Regions from separate parts of the Homo sapiens genome. Here region 1 is linked to region 2. Evidence: fine-mapped expression QTL. A gene starts in region 2. The other region holds a variant in brackets. All regions are shown on one strand. Distances are from middle to middle.

Region 1 (12,026 bases), 98 kb after region 2:
TAGGAAGCAAGCGAGACCCAGTCTCTACAAAAAATTTTACAAACTAGCTGGGTATGTTGTCATGCACCTGTACTCTCCGCTACAAGGGAGGCTGAGGTGGGAGGATCACTTGAGTCCAGGATTTGGAGGCTGCAGTGATCTACGATTATGCCACAGTACTCCAGACCAGAAGACAGAGCAAGACCTCATCTTCAACAACAACAACAAAAAGAGCAGGTGACACATAAAAGAGGCAGCCATTTGTCCCCAAACACCTTACACTGGTGTGATGCCTGGAGCTGTGGTGGCCATCTTGCAACCATGAGGCCTGAAGTCCTGAATGGCCAGAGAGGAGAATATACACCAGAAAAAAAAAAACGGGGGGGTTTGTTACCATGGAAGGAGTGAGGAAGAGCTGCTAGGGAGGCAGCCAACACTCCCGGAGCACATGCAGCCCTTCTGTACCCGACCAGCCTGATGGTGTCTTCCATGAATGCAGTCCCCATCCCTCACTCCAGGAAACTGGGGAAGACAATTCAAGTGGCCTTGATCGTAGACAGTTCCCTTGGAAATAAAAGTACCAAGACAAAGCAGAGAAGTCGGAGAGCTTCAGGTTTGCAGTTTTATAGAAAAGATTTAAGAGGGTTAAAATATTCGTTAAAATGGCCCTCATTCTCCCGGGCCAAGGCTGTGTGGTCACACCTGAGAGCCTCAGCACTGCCCAGTACCCTCTCTCTCCTTGCGGAATTTTTAGTCCAACTGATCACAGAACCCACACCCTAAAAAATACAACAGCATTCTAATGGCATTCTAACGGCATTCTGATGGCATGCTAATGGCATTCTGTTTTGCTTTTTAGCCACCAACAACTCAACCTATTTTCAGAGCAGGTGAAAAACAATTCTGAATCCAGTTTGGAAAGATTCCGGCAACCAACACTTTATGTCAAAGCACAAGGAATGATGACAAAGACTCTGGCGATGGAAGATCAAAAACAGGCTTGTTTTATTTATACACAGAACAACTTATGTACAGCACTCAGGTATGGACTATGTACATGACAATACAAGAGGCGTTTGTTTCCACGGTGGTCACTATATAAATTAAGATTATAAATACGAGGGGGTAAGCCCCACCTGAGGGCACAGAACCTTTTCTCCAAGACTCTTCAGGGATCCTTCCTGCCTCTCTCTGCACAGCAGACCATGAGGCCCGTCTGGCAACACCACAAGGGGACCTGGGCCGGGGCAGCAGAGCAGCCCCCAGACAGCGAGGACACCCCAGTGCGGGACGCCAGCCCAGCACCAAAGGGCAGGTTCCTAAACACTCATGTTCATTCCTTCCTCACATTCTAACTTGTTAGAATTAGAAAAATGGTTTTTATGTAAACAGTGTTGTTCTAATCACTGACAACATATTAATTTTAAACACTTTTGATCCAAACCCAACTCCTTGCCAGGAGTAGGACACTGAGGACTTGGGGTGGCCCTGATGTCCTTGAAGCCACAGTCAGCTGTTTATCCTCCTCATGTCCCCTCCCCACCCAAGTTCCAGCTTGCCTGGGGCTTGTTCTGGGACCCTAAGAACCCCAGGATGCCCACATCGCCAGGCCAGCAGGGCCAATGGTCATGCAGGGACTGCGGGACAGGTTCCCATCATCTCCTGTGTTAGCCCATTCCACCTGGGAAACCAAGCGACTGCCGTGGCTGGCTTATTTCTCCCTCTGCCAACCCCCATCTACAATGTTCTGGGGAAAACAATGAGAGGTGGAAAAGGTAACATACAACCACCTTCCACCCACATCACTTCCAGTGAGGCAGCTAAGTCCACCAACAGAGCGTGGGAGAGTCTTTCATCCAAAAATCCCAACACGTCGCATGCAGCGACAGGAGGCTGTGCTGGGGAAACCCAAGGCCTGGCTCAGCCTCCATACTCTAAGGGCCTCGGGCCAGAACGACCACGAGAGGGGAGCACCCAAAGGCACGCAGAGGGGCCCACCTGGGTGCACTGCAGAGGGGACAGAGGGGCTGTGAGTGGGAGGTGGGCCAGTGCTGTTCACTGCCGCCTGCTCAGGACCAGGGGCTGCTGCAGACCCAGCCCGGTCTATGCCCACCCCCGCAGGTGCAGCCCAGCTTCTGCACATCAGATGGAGTGACGCTGACTAAAGGACCTGGACAGCGCCGGCAGATACTCCCAACACTGTCCTTCTCTTTGGGAGCCAAAGAGAAGCCACGGCAGATACTCCCAACACTGTCCTTCTCTTTGGGAGCCAAAGAGAAGCCACGGCCAGGCAGCCAGGCCAGAGCCATTTCCTCCTCACACCAGGGCAGGGGTTACAGAAACCTCTTCCCAAGACATTTACAAGCACCTCTGAGCCATGACTATCAACGGGAAAAAAGGGCAAAGTCAGTGCCCTGGAGGACCAGGGGCATCCTTCACCTGGGCACTGTCCCTACGGGGCACAGCCCTCTCCCCAGGCGAGCTCCCTGCCCTCTGGCACCATCATCTACTAGTTCAGAGCCAGGACAGAGGCAGGGCAGGGGCAGCGCGGACCACCAAATCAGAGTCCCTGCCAGCACCTCCAGCGACATCACGCCCAGCAGCAGGCGACAAGAAGCCACTGCAGGGGCAGACACTCAGGAGAGCCTCCGGCCTCCAGGCCACCGGACGGGCTGAAGAGGTCAAACCACCCCTGGCCCACCAGGGCCACGCTCCCTGGGAACCACAGAATGGGCAGAAAAAGTTTCCCAGAGCCAGGAAGCATTTCCCACACAGAAACACTCATGTGGACACACATCCTCTGTCTGCAGGGATGCAGCTGGCAAGCTGTCTCACTCACACCCCAAGCTGAACTCGCCTAGAGCGTCCGGAGACAGAAGGGCAGGCGTCCCCAGCCCACAGTGGGGGGAGGGAGGAGCGGGAGGAGAGAGGATGGAGGAGGGAGGAGCACAGGCCCTGTGACACCCAGGGAGGGGCTCCCCGCCTGGGAAACAGCACCCGCTGCCTTGGCTCACGCAGGAGGAATTTTTTTTTCTCTTCACGTCAAATTACAATCAACAAGACTGGAAACATCCATGCTACTTTCAAACCAGGAAAGAGCACGATTTTTGTTCAACAAAAGCTGCATCAACAAACAGGGGCCCTTGCAGGCTGCTGTGCTGGGCCCCAGCCACGTTTCTGAGAACTGGCTGGGGGCCAGGAGGCGGAGCCACACGGTGCGGCCACAGAAGGACACACGGAGAGGAGCCCCCGGGACAATCCAAGCACGAGGCCAGGCAAGCAGTGCCCAGGAGGCCAGACGCCGCTGGATTCCCTGGCCCACAGCACAGGCGGGCGAGAGCTGAGTGGCCGTGACACATGTGCCCCAGGTGACTCTGAGCTGGAGAAAGTGTTGTTTCAAAGGTAGCTGTGTTGTTATGTTCGAGACCCCAGAGCTCTGGTGGACGGTGTCACGGAGGCTTTCTGTAGCTGACAGAGGAAGTAGCACCATGAGAAGGGGGCGGGCTGCAGCATCTGCCCAGGGCCTCAGTGGCAGGAGGCGCAGAGGCCACAGGCTGAGAGGGCGGAGGCTAGGCCTCGGCGGCGGGGATGTGGAGGCCACAGGCTGAGAGGACAGAGGCTAGGCCTCGACGGCGGGGGCGCTGCGGCTCAGCTCCTTGATGCCACACAGGATCCTCTTCATGTGGCCCACCTTGGTCACGCCCAGGTCCTGCAACAGAGAAGACACCGCCATGGATGCCGAGAAGACAGCCAGGGCCAGAGGGCTCCACAGCAGGCCTGCCACAACGGCCCTTCCCATTCGGCTTGTGAACACAAATGAGAGCCAAAATGACAAAAACGGTAAAACAAGATGGAAACAGCTTAAAAGTAACAACCATACAGATGCCTGGCCCATTGTTCCTGCATTCTAGTCACTACCATCAGCAAGGACAAATCCAAGACAAAGACAAAACACAGGCCTAAAAGCAAGTGGATGACAAGTGACCTCATGAGAGCCACTGTCCAGGACACCCACAGTGGCCTTTTGCCCTCTCGGGACTCAGCCAGTGATTCAACACCCAGGGGTTGGCCCGTTGAGGCCAACCTGGGCAGGGGCATGGGCCTGCAAGATGTGGCGTGAGGCCTGGCATAGACCGAGGCCTGGCACCCAACCACCCCTCCCAATGCTCCCTGCAGACGAGTGGCAGCACCCGCCCAGGAGCAGCATGGGGACAGTCGTGTGTGACTGTGCTTCAGGGTCTGTGTCCCCTCATAGTGTTTTTAACACGAAGACAGTCCTTGTCTGAGTAGCCTAAGATAACCAAGGCTCTGCCCCCCATTATGTCTGCTCCTGGCTTCCTCTGGTTGTGGTGGGTGGAGCCATCACTGCCTAGATGAGGGCCACAGCCGCCCCCACCTGAGGTATACACGAAAGCCTGAGAAGAATCGTGATGCTGGGACATGGCCAGGTCGGGGGAGAGGATGGAAGAGAAGGGAGCTGCGTGCAAGCCCAAGTGCAGGTTCCAGGGAGACGCCTATGGAAGTACCTTGAGGTCCCTCCGCTCCAGGTGCAGGAGCTCAGAGCCCCGGATGTCGTGCCGTGTGAAGATGTCCTTATACTCACAGAGACTGAGGTGCTCCAGCCAGGCAGCAACCTCCTCTGTCCCCCAGAGGTGAACTGTCGGAGATGGAAAAGCACGAGTGCAGTGAGTGCCCAGAGCCCAGTGCAAGGTAGGCAGCAGCTGGCACCCAGCACCCGAGAGCCCAGTGCCAGGACAGGAGACGTCCCAACAGCCAGCACCCGAGACAGCCCAGCAGCAGCCAGCGCCTGAGATAGCCCAGCAGCCGGCACCCGAGATAGCCCAGCAGCCAGTGCCTGAGATAGCCCAGCAGCTGGCACCTGAGCCATCTCTGGCAGCCGGTATCCATCACCCAGCCAACAGCACCACCCACCAGCAGTGCAGAAAGAGGCACAGAGCCACCCGCTCAAGGGGCGATGGCTGCAGCAGAGCTGGCATCTGTTCCTGCCAGGTGGGCCGCCAGCCTCTGGTCATTTCCCCGTGTCCCAGGAGGGATTTACCACCACCAAATATGAGGGAAATGTCCTCATGATTGTGGCCAAAGCCAGCTTTTCCTCCAGCTTCTAGAAGGGTTAAATTTCACTTCTGGACCATAGCAGGAAAGGAAACGAGCAGAGATTTCAATTCACATAGTCAGAGCCACCATTATTAACAGAAACCCCATTTCTGGACAAACATGCAAAGAAGAAAAACCCACAGGAGCTGCCCTGACTGGCGGCAAACACCAGTCCCAATATCCAGGCTTGGAGGCCTCTCCAGCCCCTGACAGCACTGGATATGGCCTGGGTATTCAGGGCTGATCCTTCAGACAGAGAGTTTAGCTCCAATTTACTGACCCAAAGGAACAATGTCCTTCAGGACCATATTCGATTGATTTCATCACCCACAATCTCTGGTGGCCTGGGCTTCCCAGCACAGGAACCTCGACCAATGCATCAATTTATCAGGAACCAGCAGCCCAGGAGGGAGCAGGCAGGGCATGCCCCAGC[A/G]CGGCCTGAGTCCAGAGCTTTGTGTCTCCAAGTTTGTCTTGTCACCACTCTACTGCTGTCTTCCTCCCCACCTCGAATCCCCCAACTCAGGGCAGGCAGAAAGCCAGAGAGCACGTCAGGGCCGGGTGTGACAACGGTCAGAGGGGAAGCAGGCAGGGTGGAGGGCTGCAGCTACCAACAGACAAGTGTGGTCGCAGGACCGGGGGTTACAGCACAGGGACCAAGAGGGAGGAGCTGCAAGGCCAAGGGAGAAAGCAGAGACCAGGGGAACGGGGCCGATCCAGCAGGCGTGGACGGCCAGAAACACACGCGGGAGAGAGGCAGGTACCCGGGGCTCCCAGGCTACTGTGAGCTTCTTTGTTCTTGTTGTTTTTCTCCTTTTTAAACTTGGTCACGAGGCGGAATTTACCACTGCGACTGCGCTTGGCAAGATCCAGCATCACACTCTGTTGGGGAGAATGAGGAATACTGAGAATCAGGCTGCAACTGATCACGGCCTCATGCCCATCTCCACCAGAGAGGCTGGGAGGGCAGGCAGGGCTGAGATGAGCGGGAGCTGGGAAAGACCTCTTGTGCCTGAAAGGGCTTCTCTCCCTTATTGATTCTTGTATTTAGTGTTGATTTTAGTGAGTGTTAAAGTGGTTTCAAAGTGATCATAGTGTCTATTTTTATCATATTCTACTTCCTTCACTTTACATGTGCGTTTCTCATGAGATTTAAAAACTTTTTGAAAATATCATAAATATCAGTATCTAAACAAAAATTATTAAAATAACCTCTTTAGCCAATCTTCTAGTGTTGGATTGCTGGGCTTTGATTCTTAGTATTACGAGTATCTGTCTAATGAAAACTCTCCTGCACTTTGCATTCTTTCCTTGCGATCCACTCCCTGAGGCAGAAGAGCAGAGGAAGGGTGAAGAGCGGAGCCACACAGAGGCTCGGCCTCTGCTCTTGACAGCCATCGGCGGCGGCAGCCTCTCCACACAGCACTCCCTGAGATGCACGGAGGTAACACTGCCTCACTCTGTGATGCACTCTTTATAAGAGACACTCCAAATAAAGCTTGAAAGTAAAACTATGAAAAAATATAGCAAGCAAGTAGACTTGAAGATAAAAAGAATTACTAAAGATAAAAGGATCATTATATAATGATAAAACCTATGGGTACCCAATAACATAGCCTCAAAATACATGAAGCAAAAATACACATAACCACAAAGATAAACTGAGACATCTACAATTATGGTATTAGAGTTAACTGATCTATCAAGAAGACAAAAAAAATTTCAGTAGGAACTTAATGATGTAAACACAACTGCATACAAGATACATTTACAAAAACCACCTATTGGGCAAGTCTCACCTCAGTACATTTCAAAGGACTAGTAACATACAGACCATTGCTTGGAGCACAGTAAAATGAAGTTAGGGAATAAAAAACATAGTCTTGAACAGCTAATTTAGATGCTTATTATTTGGCACAGTTTCGTGACTATTATAACTGTCATAAGTTGATGACTATACATAACAATTATTGTATTTTACCAATGTAAAGTGATCCTCTTTTTATCATTTATTGTCTTACATATGCAATTTTATTTTTATATTGTTACTTTGGATTTTTTATGGTGTTTTAATTATTATTAATCTTTCTGTATCATAAATTTTTATTAGGAGTATGAGAAAAAAAAACAGGGCTCTTGTGAGCAATATATGGTTAGGTTTCTTTTAAAACACAACCTAAGAATTTACTTTTAAGAGAAAGCCATGTCATTTTTCTGTTATCTTATTTTCATGCTGTTAGCGATACCCTTGCTGGTCCTTTACTTTCTTTTACAATATAAATTGTATTTTATTTTTGTCCTTGGTGGCAATTTGGAAGATATAAATCTTTTCAGCTCTATTAGAAATTACCTTTAAGTTTAAAAAAAAATTTTTTTTTAATAGAGACAGGGTCTCACTATGTTGCCGAGCCTGGTCTTGAACTCCTCGGCTAACGTGATCCTCCCACCTTGGCCTTCCAAAGTGCTGGGATTACAGGTGCGAGCCACCACTCTTGACCCTAAAAACATTATTGACTCTGTATTTCTCCAAGTATGAAAGTCAAGAATGTTGTTTGTAACGTTCTTCCACTGTAAGAGGAGGAATTTAACATGCTTTCCTCCCCCCGTCCATGTCCTCTTCCCAGCCTCTCACCTCACTGCCCACTTTACTGGCCTTAATTTAATCTGGTATTATAGGGCTATGTCACTGTGACATCTGTTGAATCATTGTATATTATTATTTTTGTAATTTTGGGTAAAATTTCTTAATCACCTTTACAATGAATTATTTAATGGATTTTGAGGAGCTTGCCCTGTCCTTTTATACCCAAGTGCCCTCACTGAGAAGCTGCTGAGTTTCATCCATCGGCTGGAGTGCCTGAGTCAGTTTCCCATGAAAGGATTGCATGCGTCAAAAAACGCCCCAGGGCCCCGGAAAGAGGGTGCTGTTGTGCAGCTGCCCACCTCTGTCCCCTCGCCTTACTGCTGCCCACAGGTCTCACAAACCCCACTGGGCAGGGGTGCCCAGGTTTGGCGTCTTGCAGTTATTTGCCTTCTGCAACTGTACTGCCCAAGATGAGCTTTCCTCAGGGCCCCTCTGTGTTCTATCTCTGAAGCAGGGAAGCCAAGAGACAGGCTGGGGTTTGTCCTTGTCCAGACACGGCCCTCTCCAGGGCTCCTTCAGCCAGCACTCCCTGCAGAAGAATGTGACTCCACCCCAGGGTCCGCTATGCCCTGCGTCCTCGGGTCCCTCCCAGACCTGCGACGAGCTGGAGTCTTTCTGTTCACACAGGAAGAGAGTGTGAGTGGGGAGTGGCGCACACCAACTGCGCCCTGTCCACAGCGGGATCCCAAAAGGCTGCCATTTATCCCATGATACATCTCCACCCTCGGGGGAGGCTGTGGGGCTGGGCTCAGCCTTCCTTCTACCCACTGTCCAGGAAGCCCTGCAGTTCTGTTTCAGAGGACAACAGGTCCCTGGTCCTCAAGGGGCACTCTTAATCCCAGCCCAGAACTCCTTCCTACCTGCTGTCCCTCCCTGCCTTAAAGAGCATTTTAATAGCGAAGTCTGGAGAAGGCCCCTCAGGGGCTGCCGGAGCGACACGATCTTGATCCCAGAGCCACACGGGTCACAAGGAACACAGGCACTTCAGGCGAGAGCCACCATGTCCGGGAGACCCAGGCACAGCCCTATGAGCCACATACCTCTTCGTCGCCGGGCTCTGCGGACTGGCAGAGCCACGGGGTGTCTGCCAGCCTCCTGAGCTGTCGGTCCATCTCGGCAAGAGCACTCCCCAGCTGCTCCTTCTGAGGCGGATCCAGCTGCTGCTCCAGGCGGAGGGAGGGAGAGAGAAATGGAGAGTGTGCACTGCTGATCAGCGCGAGGCCCAGGGGGGTGAGGTCCGCTCCAGGGCTCTGCTCTGCTCTGATCAGGGAGCTCACTTTCCAGAAACGAAGTCCCAGAGCACCAGAAAAGGAACCAAACCCAGAACCTCACTTTCTAAGTAGTGCTGGTGAGAGAATAAAACTGTCCATCAGTCAACGATGAATTCACATAGAGCAAGGCTGACAACTGACCTGCTTGTGTCCCTCTGTCAGAAATGGGGTCGGAGCCATTCACCTGTGTCAAGCAGTGGAAATGCTGTGGGAAGCAAAGTCAGCAGTCGAACCTTGCAGGAGGCAGCAGGAGGTGTGCAGTGAGGACACGCGTGTGACCACGGGACGTGGGACGAGGGGAGGCATGGGATAAGGAGATGCGTAGAGTGAGGATTTCTGTGGAGTGAGGTGATGCGTGGAGTGAGGTGATGCGTGGAGTGAGGAGATGCGTGCAGTGAGGACATGCGTGGAGTGAGGAGATGCGTGGAGTGAGGAGATGCGTGGAGTGAGGAGATGCGTGGAGTGAGGAGATGCGTGGAGTGAGGAGATGCGTGGAGTGAGGAGATGCGTGGAGTGAGGAGATGCGTGGAGTGAGGACATGCGTGCAGTGAGGACATGCGTGCAGTGAGGACATGCGTGCAGTGAGGACATGCGTGGAGTGAGGAGATGCGTGGAGTGAGGAGATGCGTGGAGTGAGGAGATGCGTGGAGTGAGGAGATGTGTGGAGTGAGGAGATGTGTGGAGTGAGGTGATGTGTGGAGTGAGATGCGTGCAGTGAGGAGATGTGTGGAGTGAGGTGATGTGTGGAGTGAGGTGATGCGTGCAGTGAGGAGACGCGTGCAGTGAGGAGGTGAGTGGCGTGCGGAGTGGAGGGCTGGGAAACCACACCTGGGGCGGTTCTCCAGTTGCCCAATCTTTATCAAGCCCCTTCCTCCTCATCTTTAAAACCAGAAGGCTGGCCAGTCAGTCTCTCAGGCCTCTCCCTGTTCTAGCCCCTGTGATTCAGTAACAGCCCCACAGCTGCCATATCAGCCGGTTTTGCAGGGCTGAGCATGGAAGGTGCCTGAGAGTGTGGCCAGCTCTCGGCAGGAGCAGGACTCTGCACTACAGGCTTCTAAGGCAGAAAAGCATCTTCTGTCCACGACGACAAGGGTGTTTCCGCTGCAAGCGCTTCTCGCATGCTTGAGACAACCTGACTGAGGGGTTGCCAGCAGGGGTGGGCACCAGCCGCACAACAAACCAAATGACCTCTGCGGCCCATTCCTTAAGACCGGGAACTCTGGACTAAAGTGTGCTGCCCTGTGTGCCCAGCAACCTGGCGACAGCAGTCGTTTCACACACAGCCCGAGCCCTGCTGTCCCTGGGGCACCAGCTTACCAGGGCCATCTTCCCAGACAGCAGCAGCTCCGTCTCACTGCGCAGAGCTCTGAAGTTATTCACCATTTCCAGGACGAAGCTGCAGTTGAGCCCCTAGAAGAAACCAGGCAAATATGCATGGGGGCGGGGGGCCGAACATGCACGGTTAGGGGCAGGGAACAAGCACTGGGAGGGCCGAACATGCACCGGGGAGGCGGGGGAATGAACACGCACGGGGAGGGCCGAGGGCGGCAGACACTGAGAAGAAGCCAGGACTGAAAAGGCCAGAATAGCTACCTCTGTGGTTCTGGGCTTGCCATACACACGGTCCATGGACTTGGAGCTGGCATTGACGGCGTGGGCCAGTTCCTGCTCCATGTCCCGGTGAGACTGAGCTATTTCTCGGATACTAGAGAGGAAGAGAAGCACGGGCAGATGTCAGGCCAAATGGAAGGGCAGCCTTTCACAATACGCATCTGAACACGGCCCAGGTACCACCTGGAGGGCTGATGTGGAGGGCAGGCCCAGCAGGACGACAGGGATCGTGGCTCAGCCCAGCGACCGTTCAGTCACAAGCTTGGGCACAGGATGACCCACAGCAAATGGGAGGGCTTCCACGAGAAATCTGACGTCAAAATCCAAGATTTTCCAGGGAGAGAAATGTACAAAATGAGGCTTACAACCTGTAAAACGGCCAGTGGGCAAGTGACAGTGTGCACAGGCCCACTGCAGAGACTGCTGCAGTAAGGCACAATCCCCACAGCCTTGCTGGAACCTGTAACTGGCCGGTCTGTCCCTGGGGACAAAAGGACCCTCATCTGAACAGGACAATCCTGGTGCAGTGATGGGCTCTGAGCCAGACCCCAGATAGCAGCCCTCATAGGGAAGACGGTGAGAGCACAAGTCACACCAGGTCCCAGGGAGGCTGAGATGTGGCTCAGGCAGGTGAGATCGGGGGACAGAGACTATAGGAGCAGTGCAAGCAAAGGCAGCGGGGCCAGCCTGTCCTGACCCTGTGGAAACAGGCCGCTGCCAGCAGCTTCCTGCAGTGCTGTGCAAGTGCACCTTCCAGGCAGGCCAGAGGGGCCACCATGGGCTTTGAGGGGACAGGGTAATGGCTTTCCAGGGGAGGCCACCAGAAGCCCACTGCACGGCAAGGAATTAGCTGAACTGAAGTCCTCCAGCCCCATCACTGATCTGGGTGGGGTGGGGGAGAGACGAGGACAGGGGCCGCAGTGGCACCAACTCCTGGGGCAGAGAATGCAGCGCCAGGAAGGACTGCAGCCGGTATGGAAGTGCAGAGCGAGGAACGCCGGTGATGACTGGGACAGCGACCACCTGCTCGACAAGAGCCGAAGGCTGGCACAGACGATCCATCTGCACGCCAGGGCTGGGCAGGCTGCCTGGAAGGGCACACGGCATGCCGGGCACAAAACCGACGGGTGCACCTGTCCACAGCCAGGAGAAGAAGGAGCCCAGGGGAAACAAGAAAGGGACACCAGGGCACCAGCCAGCGTGCGGCCACGGGGGGAGAATGCAGGCAGGCCCCGCACCGGCGGAGCAGCACAGCTGCCGGCTGGGAGGGACTCACAGGCGGAACCCGCACCTGGCGGGCGAGGAGCAGGAATGGCAGACAATGCTGACCACCAGCCACGAGGGACACAGTGGCTCCAGGGGTGTTTCTAGAAGGCAGGTGAGAGGAAATGCCCCAGCAGTTGTCTTTT
Region 2 (12,026 bases):
CACCTTTGTAAAAACTTGGTTATTCATACAACTGTGTATTTCTGGACTTTCTATTCTGTTTCATTGACATATTTATGAAATATTTGATTACTATCCTTTGTAGGAGGTCTTGAAATGAGTCAGTGTTCACTCTCTTTTTTTTCTTGTTTTCCATTGTTGTTTTTGCTATTGTAGGTCCGTTACATTTCCATAAGAATTTTAGAATCAGTTTGCCAATTTGCACAAAAAAAAAGCCTGCTGGGATTTGGTTGGGATTGTATTGAATTTATAGATGAACTGGGAGAACTGACATCTTAAAAATTTTGAGTTTTTCAATTCATGAACATGACTGTGTATTTAGGTCACTCATTAAAGTTTTGTAGTTTTTAGTGTACAGTCTTTCACATCTTTTGTCAGATTTAGCCCTAAGTATTTCATATTTTTATGCTATTTTGAGTGGTATTTTCATTCCAATTTTCAATTGTTCATTGCTGCTACAGCTGACCCTTGAATAAAGCGAGGATTAGGGGCACCAACTTCGTGCAGTCAAAAATGAGCATAGAACTTTTGACTACCCTAAAACATAACTACAGTAGCCTACTGTTTGCTGGAAGCCTTGCCAATAACATAAAGTCAATTAATAAATATTTTGTGTAATATATGTATTATATGCTGTATTTTTCTTACAATAAAGTCTGCTAGAGAAAAGAAAATGTTAAAATTCATAAGGAAGAGAAAAGATCTTTACTGCCAGGCGCGGTGGCTCAGGCCTGTAATCCCAGCACTTTGGGAGGCCAAGGCGGGCAGATCACCTGAGGTCAGGAGTTCGAGACTAGCCTTAACATGGTGAAACCCCGTCTCTACTAAAAATACAAAAAATTAGCCGGGCGTGGTGTTGCATGCCTGTAATCCCAGCTACTCGGGAGGCTGAGCCAGGAGAACTGCTTGAACCTGGGAGGCAGAGGTTGCACTGAGCCGAGATCACGCCATTGCACTCCAGCCTGGGCAACAAGAGTGAAACTCCATCTCAAAAAAAAAAAAAAAGAAAGAAAAAAAGAAAAAGAAAAGATCTTTACTATTCATTAAGTGAAAGTGTATCACCATAAAGGTCTCCATGCTCACTGTCTCCCATTGAGTGGGCTGTTGAGGAGGGGTGGGGGTAGGGGGAAGTTGGTCTTGCTGTTTCAGGAGTGGCAGAGGGGGAATTGGTGGAGGAGGTGGAAGGGGAAGCAGGAGAGACAGGCACACTCAGTTTGACTTTATGGAAATACATCATAATTACTGTCTGATAGTTTTGCTTTTTCAATTCTTTAAAAATGCCTGAGCTGTGCGCAGTGGCTCACGCCTGTAATCTCCGCACTTTGGGAAGCTGAGGTGGGTGGATCATGAGGTCAGGTGTTTGAGACCAGCCTGGTCAACACAGTGAAACCCCATCTCTACTAAAACTACAAAAAATTAGCTGGGCGTGGTGGCGGGCACCTGTAATCCCAGCTACTTAGGAGGCTGAGGCAGGAGAATCACTTGAACCTGGGAGGCAGAGGTTGCAGTAAGCCAAGATCGCACCACTGCACTCCAGCCCAGGTGACAGTGCAAGACTCTGTCTCAAAAAAATAAAATAAAAATAAATAAATAAATAAAAATGCTTGCATACAGTACTAATCCTTCTTCTACTATTTGCTTTAGTTTCAATGCCCGTATCATAGAAGGGTCCAAGTTGTAAAAGAAGTCAAAAGCAGTCTTAAATAATCAGAACCCTTCTGCAAGATTGTCTAATGTCAATTCATTTTCTGACAGTGCTTCTTCTATATCTTCTTCCTCATTCTCTGGTACTGATTCAAAAGCACTCATCTCCATCAAGTCATCTTCTGTTAATTCCTCAGATGTGGTATCTATTAACTCTTGAATTTCCCCAAGATCTAGATCTTCAAACACTTTATGCCTCTTTTTTTTTTTTTTGGTGCCATATCCACAATCTCTTCCATGACTTCCTTGATAGGCTGTTGTAAATCCTGTGAACTCACACACAACATCTGGAATCTGGACGCAGTTTTCTTCAGCACTAATGTATTGTTTGGGGCTTGATGGCTTTCACAGCTTTTTCTGTAACAACATGGGCTTCTTCAATGGTGTAATCCTTCTGGACTTTCACGATATTCTCCCTGTTGAGATTCTCTTCCATAGTGTTGACACCCCTTTCCATAGAAAACCGTACGTAATGAGCCTTAAAGTTCCTTATGACCCCTTGATCTAAGGGCTGAATTAGACATGTTGTGTTTAGGGGCAAGGAGGCCACTTTGGTGCTCTCATTGCAGAATCTATGGGGTTCTGGGTGGCCAGGGACATTGTCCAATATCAAAAGCAATTTAAAAGGAAGTCCCTTACTGGCAAGGTACTTCCTGACTTCAGGGACAGAGCATTGGTTTTCATGGAACCAAACCAGAAAAAGTGTTTTCGTTGTACAGGGCTTTTTATCATAAAACAAAAAGACTTGCAGCTGGTGTTTATCTTTTCCCTTAAAGGCTCAGGGATTAGCAGCTTTATAGATGGCACATTTGAAAGCACTTTGGTAAATAGGTGTGTAGTGAGAAATACAGTATGAAAAGAATGTTGGGACCATCAGCGAACTAAGAATCAAAATAAAGAATTTCCACAGTGGATGTTGAGAAATCGTGGAAGCTTCTTTAGCAGAGAGGTTTGAGCTCAAAGTGCACCTTAGATGGATAGTGCATCTTATAGTGACGTGCAGGAAGGGGTGTGTAAAACGGGAGTCCACTGAAAAGGCTATCATCCTAATGCAGGTGAGATTTCATGGGGATCTGATAGGAGGAGAGGAAGCTATGGAATGAAAGGATTGTCCAGACAATACTTTGACATGCCATTAGTTTGATTCACAGACGAAAGACAAAGATATAAGATTATATAAATATAATCTTATATCTTTATAAATGTGACCACTCATTCATTCATATTTATAAGATTATATAACTATAATCTTATATAAGGTTATATAACTATAATCTTATATAAGGTTATATAACTATAATCTTATATAAGGTTATATAACTATAATCTTATATAAGGTTATATAACTATAATCTTATATAAGGTTATATAACTATAATCTTATATAAGGTTATATAACTATAATCTTATATAAGGTTATATAACTATAATCTTATATAAGGTTATATAACTATAATCTTATATAAGGTTATATAACTATAATCTTATATAAGGTTATATAACTATAATCTTATATAAGGTTATATAACTATAATCTTATATAAGGTTATATAACTATAATCTTATATAAGGTTATATAACTATAATCTTATATAAGGTTATATAACTATAATCTTATATAAGGTTATATAACTATAATCTTATATAAGGTTATATAACTATAATCTTATATAAGGTTATATAACTATAATCTTATATAAGGTTATATAACTATAATCTTATATAAGGTTATATAACTATAATCTTATATAAGGTTATATAACTATAATCTTATATAAGGTTATATAACTATAATCTTATATAAGGTTATATAACTATAATCTTATATAAGGTTATATAACTATAATCTTATATAAGGTTATATAACTATAATCTTATATAAGGTTATATAACTATAATCTTATATAAGGTTATATAACTATAATCTTATATAAGGTTATATAACTAATCTTATATAAGGTTATATAACTATAATCTTATATAAGGTTATATAACTATAATCTTATATAAGGTTATATAACTATAATCTTATATAAGGTTATATAGCTATAATCTTATATAAGGTTATATAGCTATAATCTTATATAAGGTTATATAGCTATAATCTTATATAAGGTTATATAGCTATAATCTTATATAAGGTTATATAGCTATAATCTTATATAAGGTTATATAGCTATAATCTTATATAAGGTTATATAGCTATAATCTTATATAAGGTTATATAGCTATAATCTTATATAAGGTTATATAGCTATAATCTTATATAAGGTTATATAGCTATAATCTTATATAAGGTTATATAGCTATAATCTTATATAAGGTTATATAGCTATAATCTTATATAAGGTTATATAGCTATAATCTTATATAAGGTTATATAGCTATAATCTTATATAAGGTTATATAGCTATAATATAGCTATACTCTTATATAAGATCATATAGCTATACTCTTATATAAGATCATATAGCTATACTCTTATATAAGATCATATAGCTATAATCTTATATAAGATCATATAGCTATAATCTTATATAAGATCATATAGCTATAATCTTATATAAGATCATATAGCTATAATCTTATATAAGATCATATAGCTATAATCTTATATAAGATCATATAGCTATAATCTTATATAAGGATCATATAGCTATAATCTTATATAAGATCATATAGCTATAATCTTATATAAGATCATATAGCTATAATCTTATATAAGATCATATAGCTATAATCTTATAAATGTGAACGAATGAGTGGTCCGCTGGCCGAGTGGACCCGCGAACTCACCAGCGGACTTGTAAGCGAGCTCACCTTGCCCGCTCCCGCTCCCGCTCCAGTTCCCAAACTCTTGGAGCAGAAGAGTTACATTTCCCATAAGGCCCCGTGCGAGGGGCCGGCGCTCCAGCGGGGCATCCTGGGAAGCATAGTCCACGATCCATAAATCACTTTCTGGAGACCCGCCCTCGCCAACATGGCGGCGCCCAGTTGGGGCGGGTTCGTTCGCTTCGCGTTTTGGCCAGGGCGGGGGTCTGGGCTTTAGGCAGTAAGTGCGGCTGGCGCCCGGGGATCCTGGGAGGGACGTGGGAAGCGTAGGGACAGTGTTGGTGGCCCAGTCTGAGGAGGGCGAGGCGAGAGGCTGCCCAGGCCTGCCTGAGGACGCGGCGCTCTCCTGGAGTCGGGGCAGTGGTTTCGGGCCACGGGGACCTCTGCCTTTTTGCGCCCCTGGGCCTGTGGTGGCTTGGAGGGCCTCGGCCGGCCGTAGGAGTTGGGAATTCAGGAATGCAGACAACGAGCTCGAGGCTAGACTCTCGAGTTGTGTTTTTTTAGTTTTCTTCTGAGGAAAAGAAAAATAATTGCATTTCAGCGCTTCCTGTCATTTGGTACCTATGCTAGGCGCTTTACGTTTCTCATCTCCAAGTGACCCTCCGCCACACTCGATGTGAAACCTTGGGGAAGTCACCTAGGCCCCCAGGGCTAACGATGGGATTAGTGGATACATACTGGAAGGCCTTTAGGCTTGATAATTTTAGTGGCAGTCTTCCCCGCCCTCCGCTCCCCTTCCCCCCTCCCTCCCCAGTGAACTGACTTCCGGCCCAACAGCTTCGGGACTGTACTAAAGTGCTCTAAAAAAAGTTAACTTGATCTGTTTAATTTAAATGTCATAATCTGGTATATAGTACTGAAGGGTGTGACAAGCAGAGATTTTAGAGAGTTGATTCTCAGAATTTAGGGTTGGCTTTGCCGTCCCAGCAGTGGATTAGTTGTGGCAACAGGTTTTCTTTTTTAAAAAAATTAGTGATGTGAACGTGCCTTTTTAAAAACAGCTGTTACTTATTGTGGGCCAAACCCTGTACACTAACTGCCCTTCTTTCGTTATGTCATTGGATAGTTTAAATGACCCGAAGAGACAGATGGTATCCTATTTTACACATAAGAAAACAGATTAACATATCCAGGGTCACACAGGTAGTTAGGGTCCTGATAGGGATGAAAAAAATCTAGATCTTGCTGCCTCCAAAACCCAACTACTGTACATAGAAACAGTAGTCCTGTGTTCTAAGAAACAACAGAATCGACTCCCAAGTGTAAGGTAGGGGGATTTGGGGAAAATTTATTTTAAAAATAAAAGCATTTATATGTCACTTTTTTTAAGGGTAGTATTTAGTTTCACAATGTTTGGGGACCTGTTTGAAGAGGAGTATTCCACTGTGTCTAATAATCAGTATGGAAAAGGGAAGAAATTAAAGACTAAAGCTTTGGAGCCACCTGCTCCTAGAGAATTCACCAATTTAAGCGGAATCAGAAATCAGGGTGGAACCTGTTACCTCAATTCCCTTCTTCAGACTCTTCATTTCACACCTGAATTCAGAGGTATGCTATGTTACGTACATTTAACTAGCAATATGTACCATCTTCTTTACATGTAATTAATTATGCAAAATCACAAATAGACCAATTATCTTAAAGATATATTCTACAGTATGTGTTTATTGTTGCACATATAAGATATAAATTGGTAATTCCCTCTGCAGAGAAATGTGAAGCTTAATCTTAAATATATCCTGGGTGATGACAATAATGTTTAGTAAAAAAATAAAGCAATATATTTCTTTTTTAATTCCTGTAATTTAAAGTACAACGTAAAGACAATTGTCATAAGTATCAGTCTTCATTATTGTTACACTGTTTGAGTTTTAAGATTTCTCTAGAATAACAAACACTTAAGCCAGAGTTATCCAACCAATTATATCTACCTTTTGGAGTGGGGAAGGGTGTCATATTATTTATATGGGTGCACAGTTGTTCATACGCATTTCTGAAATCTGGAAAGCTCACACCCTCATCTGATCTCACCTGAGCTTGTTTGGCTTCAGAACCAGACCTGGTGTGAGGCTATTTACAGTTTTTAGTTATCTCATGTGGGTGAATGTTCATACATTCATTACAGGAATATTAATCTGCTTGATTAATGGAAGCTGGCCCAGACCCTGCTGGGAATGTAACATTTTATATATATATAAAAAACACTTTTTTCATATTATCTTTATAAACTCTGGAAATTCTGAATTCCAAAGACCCAGAGATTTTAGGTAAGGGATTGTGTGCAAGAAACAGACCCACCACCCAAATTAGCTAAATTTAAAAGGGGGGTTATTGTAAGAATATAGGGGATCTCAGAAATCAACTGCAGGAAGCCAGCCTGACCTTACTGGACCCTTGATTTCTTGCCCCTGTTTCTCTCTATATATTTCTCCCATACCCCATCTCTGCAAACCAGCTTCCTCCACAAGGGTCCTAGGAGCTGTGTTCCCGTGAGCTCAGTGTGAACATTACTTTGCCTTCACCTGGCCCTGACTGGGGTCCCCAGCACTACATGGCTTTGTAGCTCAGCTCTCCACAGTGTCTCCATATTAGGAGGACAGACAGCCTGACTCATCCTATCTGGTTTGCCATGTTCCTCTTCCCTACTGCCACCACATTTATCAAATCTTTGTGGTTCTTCTGTTGCTTCTAAGCTTAGAAAGACTTGCTGCCTCCAGAGATTTAGTAAATATTTACCGCTGTTACCTTCCTAGGAGCAATTTAATGGGTTGGATTGCATGTGGGATTTAAGTGGTACCTCTTAGCCTTGACTCGATCCCCTCCATAAAAATATCTCCCTGATGCAATCAGTAATTCCACCAGTAAAAATTGCCAGCACTAATAAGTACATTTCTAATAGGGATAACACTTTTCCAGGTTTTAATATAGTTGAAGTTAAAGGACAACTCGAAGTAGAAACGTAGCCTCAAAGGGACTGAGGAAGATGGTGAAGTGTAGGGCGGGTCATGGAGCGTACCATTAGGCAAGAGTAGTACTGAGAGTCCCAGGCCAACTTCCTCTCCAGCAGAGGGGATTGCTGGCCAAGCATATGATTTGACATCTTAGTGCACAATGTGCACTGCTTGTATAGCTTAGCCTGAATCCTGATGGTGACTGACAGGGAGGTATAATTTGGAAAGAATAAGGACTGTCAGAGAACTGGCGGGGGAAATTTTGGAATAGTATTTTAAATAATAGGGCTACATTGGGTTCCATTGTACTCCATTACAATGTAGCTGAGAGTACTGGGAGATTATTATAAAAGTTTTTGTATGGTTTTATGCTTTAACTTGTAGATTTGTAGTTCATTTTTGCCGAGTCCCAGCACTTAGAAAGAATATAACATTCATTAACAGTAAGCACTAGGGTAGCAATAGTTTTTCAATAGGGAGACACATTTATCCCATTCCTTGTATCCCTAGAGTATATCAGAGTTTCCCAGTAAGAGTTCCTACCTAGGCTCGGATACAGACTTCTCAAAAGATTCAGGTATGCCCCATTGGGTGGCACATCACCTAGATGTTGGGTGATAAAGAAATTCTGGAGACTCGCATGGGGTTGCCAACTTCTTTTTCCAGATAAGACCACTGCCATCTGTTATTACCTTCAACACGGAAAAGACATTTTCACACCAAAAAAAAGGGCATCTCAGAGTAAAAGAGGATCCTTCCCACGAAAGGATGTTTGTTAGCCTTACATGTGGCAGGAAAACTGCAACACTACTGTATTTCCTGAGATTCTTGGGCTTTTGGGACCTGATGCCATAGACAGTGGGAAGCCATGAAAGATTTCTGATGTTACTGTTTTTAGTTTTATGCATAAAGATTATTTTCCTTTCCTAGAATTAGGAAATGCTGAAGCCTTAGCATGACACTATTTTCTTAGAGTCACTGGTTAAAAATGTTACAAGAAAGTAAAGTGTATAGAGTAAGGTATAAATATTGCCACAATCATATTTCTGAATCTACTTGATTTTACTTAAAGGTGGTCTTGGCTTTCTAAAACAATTTTTTAAAATGAAATGATGTCATTTGCATCTCTGATTCTACCTTTTTCTTTAGAAGCTCTATTTTCTCTTGGCCCAGAAGAGCTTGGTTTGTTTGAAGATAAGGATAAACCCGATGCAAAGGTATTTTTATTATTATTATTATTATACTTTAAGTTTTAGGGTACATGTGCACAATGTGCAGGTTAGTTACATATGTATACATGTGCCATGCTGGTGCGCTGCACCCACTAACTCATCATCTAGCATTAGGTATACCTCCCAATGCTATCCCTCCCCCCTCCCCCCAACCCACAACAGTCCCCAGAGTGTGATGTTCCCCTTCCTGTGTCCATGTGTTCTCATTGTTCAATTCCCACCTACGAGTGAGAATATGTGGTGTTTGGTTTTTTGTTCTTGCGATAGTTTACTGAGAATGATGATTTCCAATTTCATCCATGTCCCTACAAAGGACATGAACTCATCATTTTTTATGGCTGCATAGTATTCCATGGTGTATATGTGCCACAGTTTCTTAATCCAGTCTATCATTGTTGGACATTTGGGTTGGTTCCAAGTCTTTGCTATTGTGAATAATGCCACAATAAACATACGTGTGCATGTGTCTTTATAGCAGCATGATTTATAGTCCTTTGGGTATATACCCAGTAATGGGATGGCTGGGTCAAATGGTATTTCTAGTTCTAGATCCCTGAGGAATCGCCACACTGACTTCCACAATGGTTGAACTACAGTCCCACCAACAGTGTAAAAGTGTTCCTATTTCTCCACATCCTCTCCAGCACCTGTTGTTTCCTGACTTTTTAATGATTGCCATTCTAACTGGTGTGAGGTGGTATCTCATTGTGGTTTTGATTTGCATTTCTCTGATGGCCAGTGATGATGAGCATTTTTTCATGTGTTTTTTGGCTGCATAAATGTCTTCTTTTGAGAAGTGTCTGTTCATGTCCTTCGCCCACTTTTTGATGGGGTTGTTTGTTTTTTTCTTGTAAATTTGTTTGAGTTCATTGTAGATTCTGGATATTAGCCCTTTTGTCAGATGAGTAGGTTGCGAAAATTTTCTCCCATTTTGTAGGTTGCCTGTTCACTCTGATGGTAGTTTCTTTTGCTGTGCAGAAGCTCTTTAGTTTAATTAGATCCCATTTGTCAATTTTGTCTTTGGTTGCCATTGCTTTTGGTGTTTTAGACATGAAGTCCTTACCCATGCGTATGTCCTGAATGGTAATGCCTAGGTTTTCTTCTAGGGTTTTTATGGTTTTAGGTCTAACGTTTAAGTCTTTAATCCATCTTGAATTGATTTTTGTATAAGGTGTAAGGAAGGGATCCAGTTTCAGCTTTCTACATATGGCTAGCCAGTTTTCCCAGCACCATTTATTAAATAGGGAATCCTTTCCCCATTGCTTGTTTTTCTCAGGTTTGTCAAAGATCAGATAGTTGTAGATATGTGGCATTATTTGTGAGGGCTCTGTTCTGTTGCATTGATCTATATCTCTGTTTTGGTACCAGTACCATGCTGTTTTGGTTACTGTACCCTTGTAGTATAGTTTGAAGTCAGGTAGTGTGATGCCTCCAGCTTTGTTCTTTTGGCTTAGGATTGACTTGGCGATGCGGGCTCTTTTTTGGTTCCATATGAACTTTATTTTCTCTTGGCCCAGAAGAGCTTGGTTTGTTTGAAGATAAGGATAAACCCGATGCAAAGGTATTACATCTATGATTTACTGGGGTGTTTTAGCGTATTCAGAAAATTTTTTTTAAAGAAGGAATTAAGTGGCTTGTTCACAAAGCAATAATTTTATTAATTATCAAATATGCTCTTTATTTCCAGAAAGTGACTTGGCCTATACCCTATGGGTAATGGAATTTGCCTTCCGAGAAAGAATCAGTTTTCCAAGTACAATACTGCTACTGCTTTATAAACATGTAACACTCTTTACTATGCTTATTCTTTCTTCTGGTGAAGGAAATATTTGCAGAACATCCACATTAGCTTCCCCCAGAAGTCTATTTAAAGCACTTTTTTTGCAACAATACCGACCTCTCCACCCCACACAAAAAAAAATAGAGGCTAGTATTCTTTCAATTTGGTACTCTGGAAATAAATTGAGTAATGAGTTAATTATTTTGTTTGTTATTGTGGTGATATTTAAAGTGCATATCTAATCATGTTCCTCCCTGCTTAAACATAACTCAAAAGTTTCTTACCATGTTCAGGCTCAAATTTGTACTTCTTAGGAGTCTTTCATGATCTAGCCCAGTACTTCTCAGGCTACCTGTGTGGCAAAGGACCTGTTTTTGTGTATTTCTTTTTATTCCCAATCTGTTGCAGATTAGCACTTTTCTAGTATATAATAAAAATGCCATGGGAATGTCAAATTGCCATTACAATTTCTAAATGCTTATTCTCCTTTAAATACTTAAAGTCTAGCCTACAGACCAGACTCTGAGCAACATTGCTCAGTCTGCCCCAGCCCTCACCACATCAAGTAAGGCAGGAACTCACTTGGAGCCAGGAGAAAGTGAGGCAGGGTGTGCTGAGAACTCCAGAGCGAGATACAGTATTGTGCCTGGAAAATTTCTACAGAGGGGAAATTGTGTGTATCAGAGGTATTTTAGAGAAATAATGGACTATTAGAAGAGATTCAAACTACTGTCAATCTGTAATCAGTTGAGTGGTTTATTAAGGCCTATTTGAGTTTTAATGTTTGTCTGAACCATATCAAGGTAGAAAACTCCAAATAACTATTATTTTTTAGATTGCATTATAATTTTCACAGAAGAACTGAATCATAATTAGTTTTTCCCTTATAATAGGATATTTATAAACTTTCTCCTGAATGAACTGGGAGATATAAAAAAGCTAGTATGCAGTTGTTTTCAAAAGCCTTAGTCAACACTTAAAGAATTCATTTAGAAATGTGTTTGTTTCTCATTCAGGTTCGAATCATCCCTTTACAGTTACAGCGCTTGTTTGCTCAGCTTCTGCTCTTAGACCAGGAAGCTGCATCCACAGCAGACCTCACTGACAGCTTTGGGTGGACCAGTAATGAGGTACGAGGATCAGCTCTTTAAGGAAGAGTTACCAGCAATAGAGGAAAGAATAAGGCTGGTTTAATGTTATCTAACTTCCTTTAATTTTGTCTTAGGGTCTCAACATATTGTTTGAATGTTTCCTTCTCACATTAAAAAATTACAAGCCAGAAATATATATTTTTAGACACTTGCTGTATACAGGATTTTATGAATGGCTGTGATTTGGGGCTGGGGAGAAGATTGGAAAAACGGGGAGAAGTACAAGAGCTGATTTTTACAATTTCTACCCTAAGAGTCTTTATGTAGTCTAGTTGAGATACAACACCGATTACATGGAGATTACCTACCATTTATATAGGAAACTGTTGATCAGTTTTTTAGTCTTTGACCAACAATA

What was found.
Region 1: its variant is fine-mapped to the expression of USP40 in fibroblasts (GTEx, PIP above 0.99).

What each region holds. Positions count from the first base shown.
Region 1 is chr2:233,461,033-233,473,058 of GRCh38, reverse strand. It overlaps DGKD (diacylglycerol kinase delta), which reads right to left. Exons shown (of 30, transcript NM_152879.3): 25 at 10,600-10,711; 26 at 10,324-10,416; 27 at 8,776-8,895; 28 at 5,856-5,973; 29 at 4,506-4,636; 30 at 961-3,688. The coding sequence ends at 3,599. Among named protein-coding and RNA genes, the nearest start is that of USP40, 100 kb to the left of the region's middle. RefSeq lists a silencer at 4,925-5,140. The variant A/G (reference allele first, on the strand shown) is at 5,528.
Region 2 is chr2:233,559,432-233,571,457 of GRCh38, reverse strand. It overlaps USP40 (ubiquitin specific peptidase 40), which reads left to right and starts at 4,676. Exons shown (of 32, transcript NM_001365479.2): 1 at 4,676-4,774; 2 at 5,885-6,102; 3 at 8,655-8,722; 4 at 11,534-11,647. The coding sequence starts at 5,904.